Homo sapiens: one gene and its partners. The protein of the gene in region 2 purifies or fractionates together with the protein of the main gene of each other region. This does not show direct contact. Each region holds a gene or a part of one and is shown on either strand. Other genes may lie near its edges. The genes, in order: GMIP, PANK4 and SAE1.

What was found.
Region 1: the proteins of PANK4 (region 2) and GMIP fractionate together in Homo sapiens (co-fractionation; one large-scale study listed by BioGRID). This does not show direct contact.
Region 3: the proteins of PANK4 (region 2) and SAE1 fractionate together in Homo sapiens (co-fractionation; one large-scale study listed by BioGRID). This does not show direct contact.

What each region holds. Positions count from the first base shown.
Region 1 is NC_000019.10:19,633,570-19,637,214, forward strand, and holds part of GMIP (GEM-interacting protein), read right to left. Parts: intron 3,461-3,645; coding exon 3,348-3,460; intron 3,228-3,347; coding exon 3,138-3,227; intron 2,153-3,137; coding exon 2,075-2,152; intron 2,001-2,074; coding exon 1,846-2,000; intron 1,645-1,845; coding exon 1,456-1,644; intron 1,361-1,455; coding exon 1,223-1,360; intron 1,135-1,222; coding exon 938-1,134; intron 622-937; coding exon 234-621; intron 1-233. UniProt on the Homo sapiens protein: Stimulates, in vitro and in vivo, the GTPase activity of RhoA.
Region 2 is NC_000001.11:2,509,525-2,513,169, forward strand, and holds part of PANK4 (4'-phosphopantetheine phosphatase), read right to left. Parts: intron 3,516-3,645; coding exon 3,364-3,515; intron 2,160-3,363; coding exon 2,104-2,159; intron 1,864-2,103; coding exon 1,814-1,863; intron 1,259-1,813; coding exon 1,154-1,258; intron 634-1,153; coding exon 533-633; intron 407-532; coding exon 338-406; intron 1-337. UniProt on the Homo sapiens protein: Phosphatase which shows a preference for 4'-phosphopantetheine and its oxidatively damaged forms (sulfonate or S-sulfonate), providing strong indirect evidence that the phosphatase activity pre-empts damage in the coenzyme A (CoA) pathway.
Region 3 is NC_000019.10:47,133,768-47,137,412, reverse strand, and holds part of SAE1 (SUMO-activating enzyme subunit 1), read right to left. Parts: intron 1-3,645. UniProt on the Homo sapiens protein: The heterodimer acts as an E1 ligase for SUMO1, SUMO2, SUMO3, and probably SUMO4. It mediates ATP-dependent activation of SUMO proteins followed by formation of a thioester bond between a SUMO protein and a conserved active site cysteine residue on UBA2/SAE2.

The DNA of each region.
Region 1 (3,645 bases), on a different chromosome or scaffold from region 2:
GAGGAATGAATGATCACCCATGTTAGTACCTCTGCAGGGCTGTCCCCTTTTGTTACATCATCACTGCCCACTGCTCATTCCTCACTATTCCTTCCAGAATGAACATAAGTTAAATGAGGAAGGGAGGAAGAGAATGAAGGAAATTTTAAAAAGGAAGGAAGGTGAAAGAGAAGGTAAGAGAATTGAACAGAGATAAGGCCCTCTCCATAGCTGTGGGCCCAGTGGGTTCTTACCTCGGTAGGTGTGGCCGTGGGATGCTGCTCCAGGGTACTGTGGTGCTGGGGGTCTGGGCCGGGGTCTGAGGCTAGGACTGGGGGCTGGGAGTCTGGGTCAAGGTGCGGGGGTGGCGGTTGGGAGCTGGTTGTGAGGGGCCCAGGGGCTGGGCTGGAGTCTTGGGGCGGGGGCTCAGTGGCCTGGGGGAGCTCATCCATCCCAAAGATCTGCTCGTAGTGCACGATGAGGAACTCCACAAGCTGGGCCTGATGCCCAGAGTCCAGCAGGCAGGTGACAGGGATGGCGCTGGCTGCCCGCGGGCCGTCCGGCGGCCGCAGCAGTGTCGGCCCAAACACAATGCCCAGGTTGTTGGCAGACATCTTGTTTTCCATAAATCGTGCAGCCACCCTGGGGATGGTGTGAAGAGAAAGGTCAGGGTACAGGATGCAAGCTCATTGGTCTGAGGGTAAGGGTGGGACACGCAGGCCAGCCTAGAGGTGACTTGCCCATGTCACAGGTGTAAGTCGTCTGAGACCAGCAGCCACATATCCAGAACTGGAGGTCAGGGGTCAGTACCCAAAGTTATGAATCATGGATTAAGGTTCAGAGTTCAGAAAACACAGGTCAAAGGTCAGAGGTCAGTGTCAGGGGTCAGCCAGGGAAGTTAGTAGTCGCATGTCCAGGGAAAAGGGTCGCGTTTCAAGGCTCAGGGACCCATGCACACCTGAACAGATGGGCCACCAGGTGCCGCAGGGTGTTGTAGTTAGAGTCAGGCAGCTGTACCAAGAGGGTCTTCAGCGAGCGGATAACCTCAGGGCTGGGGCTGGGGGTCCCAGGGTCGTCCCCAGGGTCTGCATGCAAGGTCTTAGCCAGAGAGATGAAGGCGTCGTAGAGGTGGAAGGGGATCACGGGCTCGGTGAGCTGGGGGTGGAACGGAGGGCGCAACACGAGTGTGGGTGGGCTGTGGAGGGCTCCTGCCCGCGTCCCCCTCAGTGTCCTGAGCACCAACCTCCTGAAGAAATCGCTTGAGGACACTCGAGACGTCATGAGGCGAGTTCCCCGACAGCTCCACCAACGCTCGGCCATTCTCGAAAGCCTGGCACAGCCGCTCCACACGGACCCGGGACCCGCTGACCCGGTAAATGCCCTGCAGGGTGAGGGTGAAAAACAGACACCTGGTTCGTGATAGGCCATCGATTCGGTCAGGTCACTTCTGGGGATGATGAAGGGTCAGGGCAGCACCTGCACATCCAGGGCACGGTGTTCTATCTCAGCCGTGCACTTCGTGACCACAAAGGGTACCTCCTCCGGGAAGTCCCTGGGTAGCTGCAGGAAGTCAACCCCAAAAAGGGGTGTCCGGGCTGGGAGCCGCCTGTGTCCACAGAGGATCAGGAGAGTCTCCAGGCAGCGCTTGTGGCAGGTCAGAAAGCACTGTGGGGAAGGTCACAGGGACAGGGAGGTCATTAGGGACCAGTAGGGGAAGAGAAGGTTACAAGGATCCTCAAGGAATGGGGGCTCATGGGAGACATCAGGTTAGGGTGGGTCCCAGGGGCAGAAAGGCTGTAGGAATCTCAGGTCAGGGAGATGATCAAGGGTCAGCAAAGGTCATTTGGTCATTAACCCAGGCCACACCTCCTCACACTCCGTCCCGCTGACCATGAAGGCTTCGCACTCGCGGCACTTGGCTGGGCCCCGCAGTCGCCGCAGCTGGTGGGTCTGAGCCGCGCTGGACAGTGTCCACTTCCCGAAGGGGCTGCCCAGCCCATTCTCCAGCCCGTCTCCCAGGTCTGCAGGGAGACAGGGTCAGGAGTGCCTGGTGCCCTGCCCTGTCCCATCCTGACCTACCCTGCTTCAGCCTCACCAGGGTCTCGCTCCTCAAAGTCATCTGAGGACTCAGTGCCTGTGGACGAAGCCTTCACCAGCTGCCTCGTGCCAGCGCCTGGGGTCAGAGGAATCATGGGAGATTCCTGGGCTATGGGAGGCACTCCTGGTTTTTAGGGCTTCCAGAACCACCCACTAATTCCCAAGGGGTCAGAGGTCAGGAGGGGGATTGGACAGGTCAGTGGTTAAGGGTTGGAGAATTGGGTCAGCAACCTGAGGGGGGTGGTTCATAAGCTGGATCAAGAGGTTGAGGAAATAGGCCGGGCGCAGTGGCTCACACCTGTAATCCCAGCACTTTGGGAAGCTGAGGCAGGAGGATCACATGAGGCAAGGAGTTTGACACCAGCCTGGCCAACATGGCAAAACCTTGTCTCTACTAAAAATACAAACATTAACCAGGCATGGTGGCAGGCACCTGTAGTCCCAGCTACTCGGGAGGCTGAGGCACGAGAATCGCTTGAACCTGGGAGGCGGAGGTTGCAGTGAGCCAAGATCGTACCACTGCGCTCCAGCCTGGGCAACAGAGCAAGACTCTGTCTCAAAAAAAAAAAAAAGAAAGAAAGAAAAGAAAAGAAAAGGCCGGGCGTGGTGGCACACACCTGTAATCCCTGCACTTTGGGAGACCGAGGCAGGTGGATCACCTGAGGTCAGGAGTTCGAGATCAGCCTGGCCAACATGGTGAAACCCCGTCTCTACTAAAAAATACAAAAATCAGCCGGCGTGGTAGTGCACACCTGTAATCCCAGCTACTCCAGAGGCTGAGACAGGAGAATCGCTTGAATCTGGGAGGTGGAGGTTGCAGTGAGCCGAGATCACGCCACTGCACTCCAGGCTGGGCGACAGAATGAGACTGTCTCAAATAAACAAACAAATAAATAAATAAATAATTTTTAAAAAGGTAAAAAAAGAGGTTGAGGAAATAGGTCAGGGGTGTGGGGTAGGTCAGAGGTCAAAGATAGTTAAAGATTGAGGGTCAGAGCTTGGCCAGGGGCTGGAGGATGGTCACAGGTGGAGTGTGGGTCAGGACCAGGTCCTATCCCTACCTGGGCTGGAAGTGGGTGAGTCCAGGGACCGAGACTCGCTGCCGCCACCCACGCTGTCCACATCGCTGCCCGGAGTGGGGCCTGGAGTCCCTAGGTGGCACAGGTCAATAAGGATGGTCCCCTGCTCACAAACCCCACTCCTGCAGCCCACCTATGTGTTGGTGGAACGAACTCCTGGCACCACTCCCACCTGGCCCTCATTGCACTCACCTTGCCAGCGCCAGCCTGTGCCCGGATCCTCCCAAGGGCCTGGCTCAGCTGAATTCTCATCCAGCCTTGGAGGAAGAGGCCCAGAGAGCTTCTTTCTGATGTCCAGAGGGGAGCTGAGAAGACAGAAGTTTGAAGGTTTGAATCCCAGGAAACTGGCCTGGGGTGATGGCACCCAGGCATCATGTCTAGGTACCAACTCCAAGCACTTGGGTCTGCAAACCCTGACACCCAGGGCATTGTGGCCCCTGAAATACAGTAGCCCCACATTCCTGCCCCTGCCCCTAGGACTGGGACAACC
Region 2 (3,645 bases):
GCATCTATGTGGGACACGGAGGTGACAGACACCGGGCAGCTGCCCAGGTCGCCCTCGGTCTCAGCTGAGTGGCCACAGGGACATTGGCCCCTCTTGCCCCAAGTCCCCAAACCCAGCCCATGTGTAACCACCTCAGACCCTGAATCCATTCACCCTCCCCAGGCCACCTTCGGGGATGGCATATCTGTCCCCTCCTGAGATCAATCCGGGCCTGGGGTCAGGAGAGGCCGCAGGGGCAGTCCTGAGGTCGGTGTCCCGCATGCACCTGGGTGCAGGTGCACGGCACAGAGGGCACAGAGCCCAGGAGGGAGAGAACAGGTGCAGGGTGCGGGGTTACCTGAGGTCGAGGCACGGGGAGCTGGAGCCCGTCTGCACCAGCAGCAGCCTCTCTTCCTGGAGCGCAGAGCTGCCAGATACAAGGTGGTCAGTGCCCCCAGGAGCTCCCAGTTCAGTGACAATCCCCATGGCCCACTCTGCCCAGCTGGTGCCCCTCCCCATCAAGGCCCCCCCAGCACTGCCCGCCAACACTCACTGCACGACAGGGTCCATGCCCGCAATACGCTCTGCCACGATGAGGGACTCGCTGTGGGTCACGTCGTTCAGGGCGGGGCCTGAGTTGCACGCCAGGATGACCTGCAGGAGGAGGGCCCAGGCTCTTTAGGAACCTGTGCTGGCCCAGCATGGAGCCTGCGTGCACCCCGGCCTTCGAGTGGCTGGGCTGGGTGAGGGTGCTGTGCCCAGCGGGCCTGGCCAGCCACCTGCTGCTGAGGAGCAGGGACCTCGCCTGACCTTGCCACTCTGTGGCCCCTGGGAGGGAGCTGAGCCGAGGGGCAGAGCTGAGTTTAGAGCCTGCCCCTGGGACCTGCCTGTCTGTGAAGTCACAGCCCCAAAGCCTCCTTGCTGTGAGCACCCTTCCAGGAGCCTGGCGTCAACCCTGGGCTTCAGCACATGGACCCTCAGCCTGAGCCCAGGGGGCTCGGAGCCTCCACCCCAGCAGATGACGGCTCTGGGCCGCCTCCCCCGTGCTGCTGCCTGCACCTACCTGCTGCGTCCGGAGGAGCCCCGACCACCGCCAGAGGCCCACAGCGGCGCCAACCCCACCGAGAGCAGAGAAGCCCAGGGGAAGGGCCCCACCCACCACCTCAACACTCACCTCTGTCCCTCTAAGGAGTAGCTCCCTGACAAAGGGGAAGACTCCCAAAATGATGTCTATTCCACTGTTATCTGCGAAAATTAAGGCACATTTATGAGGGGGCCCCTGTAAGACAAAACCAGGACGTTCAGTTGGGAACAGGCGCATCCAAGCGAGTCAGTCCGCACCCCTGCTGCCCGTCACGCTGCCCTGCAGGGGCCGAGACTGGGGGCTTCAGGGCCCCAGAGATGCCAGGGATGGGCTGTCCTGCAGGGGCCGAGACCAGGGGCTTCAGGGCCCCAGAGGTGCCGGGACTGGGCTGGGCTGCAGGGGCTGAGACCGGGACTTCAGGACCCCAGAGGCACCGGGACGGGCCAGCCTGCAGGGGCTGAGACTGGGGCTTCAGGACCCCAGAGGCGCCAGGGACGGATTGGCCTGCAGGGGCCAGTGCCTGTCTCTTCTGGCAAGGCTTTGTGCCTAGAGCAGGTGACCTAAGAAGCAGTCACGACAGGAGGGCAAGTGTGGGGCAGGGGATGCTGAGACCCTTGGCTCGCAGGATGGTGAGACTCTAACAGGAGGGGAGGGCCACCCGAGGCAGCCCATGCCCACCTCCCTCCAGTGACCACCCCCCCGGGCCCCGCTGTGTCCCCAGCAGCAGAGGTGGGAGGCCCCTCCACATACCTTTAATCTCTGAAGCCACTCGCTGTAGGAATCCACGAGCCAGGGTCTTTCTGAGACAGAGAGAGGGACACATGATTAGCCCGGTGCTCCAGGTCAGGGGTCAGGGAGACGCGTCTTCAGGTGTTCGTCTCTCCAGGAAGCAAGTTCTCCCCGCCCCCGAAGCCCAGCTGACAGAGCCTTGAGCAGGGGAGGTGCCTGGACCCCGACCGCAACTGCATTCGCTGTTGCAGAGAACGTCCAGGCATGGCCCCAGCACAAGGCAAGGCCCCAAGTTACTTGGCCATCCGTACCTTGTAACTTCCTCTTTGCTTCTTCAAACCCAAAGTAGGGGTCGGATTCAAGGACACTGCATGGAGGAGGAGAAAAGAAAATTAAGACAACAGAACAAAAACCTTCAGCCACAGTGCTCAATGTGAAGACCCCAAATCCCTCCCAGGCGGGACAGAGGCAGCTGCTCAATGTAAAGATCCCAAATCCCTCCCAGGTGGGACAGGGGCAGCTGCTCAACGTGAAGACCCCAAATCACTCCCAGGCAGGACAGAGGCAGCTGCTAAGACCCCAAATCCCTCCCAGGTGGGACAGAGGCAGCTGCTCAACGTGAAGACCCCAAATCACTCCCAGGCAGAACAGATACAGCGTTCTTAACATGCTGCGATCCGCAGAAGGCTCAGGGGGCCACCAAGCAAAGGTCTGAGAGAGCACAGGCTGTTTCTCAAGGTGGACTCGGAGCCACGGGGCCAGGGAAGCCTCTCGGTGACTGGCAGCCGCAGTATGGTCCCTGTGCTTGGCACCCATGCAGGCGGTGTGGGGAGCCCCCAGCCACAAGGCCAATCCCATGGGTCAGGACCCTCCTCCAATGCTCCTGACAGGCTGCGGGAGGGGCCTGTGTCCCAGAGGGGCAGCCATGGTTGGAGGCGGCGTTCTCATCTATGTCTCGAGACACGAGTGGGACCCAGGGAGGGCTGAGAACCCAGGCATTTCCCTCCAGCCCCACATGAAAAAAAGCAGGGACCACGAGAGGTGGTGCGGCCGCCTGGGGAGGCCCAGAGACTGGAAGCAGCTTCTTTGGGAGTGAAGGTAAATGATGGTGGGGGGGTTCATTTTCAAGATTCAGAGCCCCAGGAGACGGCGCCAGGTGCTAGACACCTGCGTGTCCTACAGGCCAGTCTAGGGGACTGCTTTGCAAAGCACCCTTTGATCATCACATCAGAAATGTTTAATTCCTACCACACATAGGAAACATGAATTTGGATTCTGACAATAGAAAATGCCAGCCCCGATTTTCAAATCCACACCCTTAGGCCTCTGCGGCACCCATGCTTAAGGAAGGGGCCTCCTCAGAACCTGAGGGGACAGACAAGGGCGCTGCGCCCTGCCCAGCCCCTGGCGCTGCTGCCATGTGCACTCCCTGGGCCCCAAAGCCCTGAGCCACCAAGCCACCAAGCGCCACGTGACCCCCAAGGGACCCGCTCCACCTCCTTGCCCGCAAGCCTGGGGCAGGACAGGCACCCACAGGCTGCAGAGCCTGCTCCGAGCCCGCAGACACCTACGCAGACACGGCTTTGGCCCCCCAGTCGAAGACATTCCCCGCCAGGAGGCCTTTCACCAGCGCCAGCTGCCGTTCCTCCCAGCCCAGCGCGTCCAGGGAGCGCACGACCCCGGGGAAGCACCTCAGCGCCACGCCATTCTCCCGCTGCTTCACCTGTGGAGAGTGCCAGATGCCAGGCCTGAGTGAAGACGTGGCCTCAGCCCACCCTGGACACCTGCCAGGCGCAGCCTGTTCCATACCACGCCCCTCAGGATCGAAGACTCAGGCCCAACTGGGACCCCAC
Region 3 (3,645 bases), on a different chromosome or scaffold from region 2:
ATTTTATTTTATTTATTTATTTTTGAGACAGAGTTTCGCTCTTGTCACCCAGGCTGGAGTGCGATAGTGTGACCTTGGCTCACTAAAACCTCTGCCTCCTGGATTCAAACAATTCTCCTGCCTCAGCCTCCCAAGTAGTTGGGATTACAAGCACCCACCACCACACCTGGCTAATTTTTTTTGTATTTTTAGTAGAGACGGTCACCATGTTGGCCAGGCTAGTCTCGAACTCCTGACCTCAGGTGATCCACCCACCTCGGCCTCTCAAAGTCCTGGGATTACAGGCTGAGTCACTGTGACGGCCTTTACTCTCTTTTAATCCACAACAGTCCCTTCACTTATTTTTCCCATGAAACTGACTTTTGGAAGAGAAGTAGGATAACTGTCTTATAAAATGCCCCACAATTTGTACATTTTATCAGCCTGCCCATTTCCAGGGCTTCTGTTTCATAAAGGAACTCCAGTCTCCAGAGTTCTCCTATCCCACCTAGAACCCTCCTATCCCACCTAGAGCCCTCTTAGAGGCAAGTCAATTTGCTCTGTGGAGCCTCCTTCCTCATCTGAACAGAGAAGGAAATCACTGCCCTTCCGACTCCAGAGAGCTGCTATAAGACTCAGGTGAAGGCCGGGGGCTGTGGCTCATGCCTGTAATCCCAGCACTTTGGGAGGCCAAGGCGGGCGGATCACCTGAGGTCAGGAGTTCACAGCCTGACCAACATGGAGGAATCCCGTCTCTACTAAAATACAAAATTAGCCGGGCATGGTGGCACACGCCTGTAATCCCAGCTACTTGGGAGGCTGAACCAGAAGAATTGCTTGAACCTGGGAGGCAAGGGTTGCGGTGAGCTGAGATCACGCCACCATACTCCAGTCTGGGTAACAAGAGCGAAACTCCGTCTCAAAAAAAAAAAAAAAAAAGACTCGGGTAAAAATGCAATCCCACTGCTAGGTATATACCCAAATGAAAATAAATCAGGCTGGGTGTGGTGGCTCACGCCTGTAATTGCAACACTTTGGGGGGCCAAGGAGGGCCAATCACCTGAAGCCAGGAGTTTGAGACCAGCCTGGCCAACACAGCAACCCCATCTCTACTAAAAAATACAAAGATTAGCCGGGCGTGGTGGCAGGTGCCTGTAATCTCAGCTACTTGGGAGGCTTAGGCAGGAGAATCGCTTGAACCTGGGAGGTGGAGATTGTACTGGGCTGAGATCGTGCCACTGTCCTCTAGCCTGGGCAACAGAGCGAGGCTCGGTCTCAAAAGAAAAAAAACTGCAATAAATCCCATGTTTATTGCAGCACTCTTCACAATAGCCAAGATTTGAAAGCAACCCATATGTCTATCAACAGACAAATGGATAAAGAAATTGTGGTACACGAGGTCAGGAGATTGAGACCATCCTGGCCAACAAGGTGAAACCCCGTCTCTACTAAAAATACAGAAATTAGCCGGGCGTGGTGGCGGGCACCTGTAGTCCCAGCTACTAGGGAGGCTGAGGCAGGAGAATGGCGTGAACCTGGGAGGCGGAGCTTGCAGTGAACCAAGACTGCGCCACTGCACTCCAGCCTACTCCAGCCTAGGCGACACGGCGAGACTCCGTTTCAAAAAAAAAAATAGAAATTGTGGTACAAAGGCTGGGCATTGCTGTTCACGCCTCTAATCCCAGCACTTTGCAGGGAGGCAGGAGGATTATTTGAGCCCAGGAGTTGGAGACTAGCCTGGTGAAACCCCACCTGTACTAAAATATTAGCTGGGCTTGTGACACGTGCTATAGTCACAACTACCGGGAGGCTGAGGTGGGAGGATCACCTGAGCCCAAGAAGTCAAGGCTGAAGTGAGTTGTGATCACACCACTGCACTCTAGTCTGCGCGACAGAGAGACCCTGTCTACAAAAAAAAGGGAATGAGATCCTGTCATTTACAACAACAGGGAGGGCACTGGATGTTATTATGTTAAGTGAAATAAATCAGGCACAGAAAGAAAACTTTGCACGCTGTCACTTATTTGTGGGAACTAAAAAAATTAAAACAATTGAACTCATGCAGATAGTAGACTGAGGGTTACCAGAGGCTAGGAAGGGTAGTGGGGGGTGGAGGGGAAGGAGGGATGACTAATGGATACAAAAATATAATTAAATACAATGAATAAGATACAGTATTTGATAGCATAACAGGGTGACTACAGTCAACAATAATTTGTTGTACATTTCAAAGCAACTAAAAGAATATAATTGGATTGTTTGTAACACAAAGGATAAGTGCTTAAGGTGGTGGATACCCCATTTACCCTGATGTGATTATTACCCATTGTATGCCTGTATCAAAGTATCTCACATACCCCCAAAATGTATACACCTACTATGTACTCACACAAAAAAATTTTTAATTTCTAAAAACCTCGGCTGAAAATGGACAAAAAACACTTTAATAAACTCTCTAAGACTGTCTAAAAATAGAGTACAAATTACAAACAACCTCTTCCCTCCCTCCTGCAACCCCCAGCCAATCCTTTTCATGTTCTCCACCAAATTTGGTACAGCTCCACTCCCTCAGAATAATTCCTACCTCCCACAAATTCCATGCCCTGACCCTGACTTGTCCCTTAGGTCATCTCCCACTCAGAGGCCCCCATCCATTCTTCACTGCTTCTCAGAAAAATCATCCCCATCCCTCTGAAAGTTCCCTAACTACATTCCAGTTTAAACCTCACCAACTTTGCCCCACTTCAAACAAAGCTATCTGCTGCCGCAAACCCCTTCGATTAACCCTTCCAGTACCTTAGAATCCCCTCCCCAACCCTTTAGGATCTCAGAACACACCAAGCTTCCTCAAAGTTTCCTCCAACTCACATAAATCCTCTTTCCACTCCATCCAGAAAATAGCAGTCCCTAAAATCAATGCAGTCCACCTATGTCCAGAGGCACATTCTCATCACTTAATTCCCAATCTATTCCAGGTGCCTTCAACCCTCCCACCAATGTTAATGCCTCATGATGACATCCCCCCACCCCATCAAAGAAGACCCCACAGATCTGAAATGAGCCTGAGGTAATTCCCATCCCACCACTGCACCCTCTAAAACCTTCTGAAAGCTCCCACCCCCTCAAACTAAATTCTCCTGACGTGTCTGCCTCCCCAACCCCTCCATTAATTCTATACTCTGTACTCACACAATACCCACCATCACCCAAATTTTACCTCTGAACTCAACCCCTCACATATTTCTACTTAGTTGTATAAAAAAACAAATCTGAGGCCGGGCATGGTGGCTCACACCTGTAATCCCAGCACTTTGGGAGGCCGAGGCAGGTGGATCACGAGGTCAGGGGTTCAACACCAGCCTGACCAACACGGTGAAACTCCGTCTCTACTAAAAATACAAAAATTAGCTGGGCATGGTGGCGGGCGCCTGTAATCCCAGCTACTCGGGAGGCTGAGGCAGGAGAATTGCTTGAACCTGGGAGGCAGAGGTTGCAGTGAGCCGAGACCATGCCACTGCACTCCAGCCTGGGCGACAGAGTGAGACTCCGTCTCAAAAAAAAAAAAAACAAACAAAAAAAACAAATCTGAAACCTAAAAGAGAACTGACTCTTCCCCGACCCCACCAAACCTACAGCTCTCCATATCTTTCAAAATGGCAATTCCAT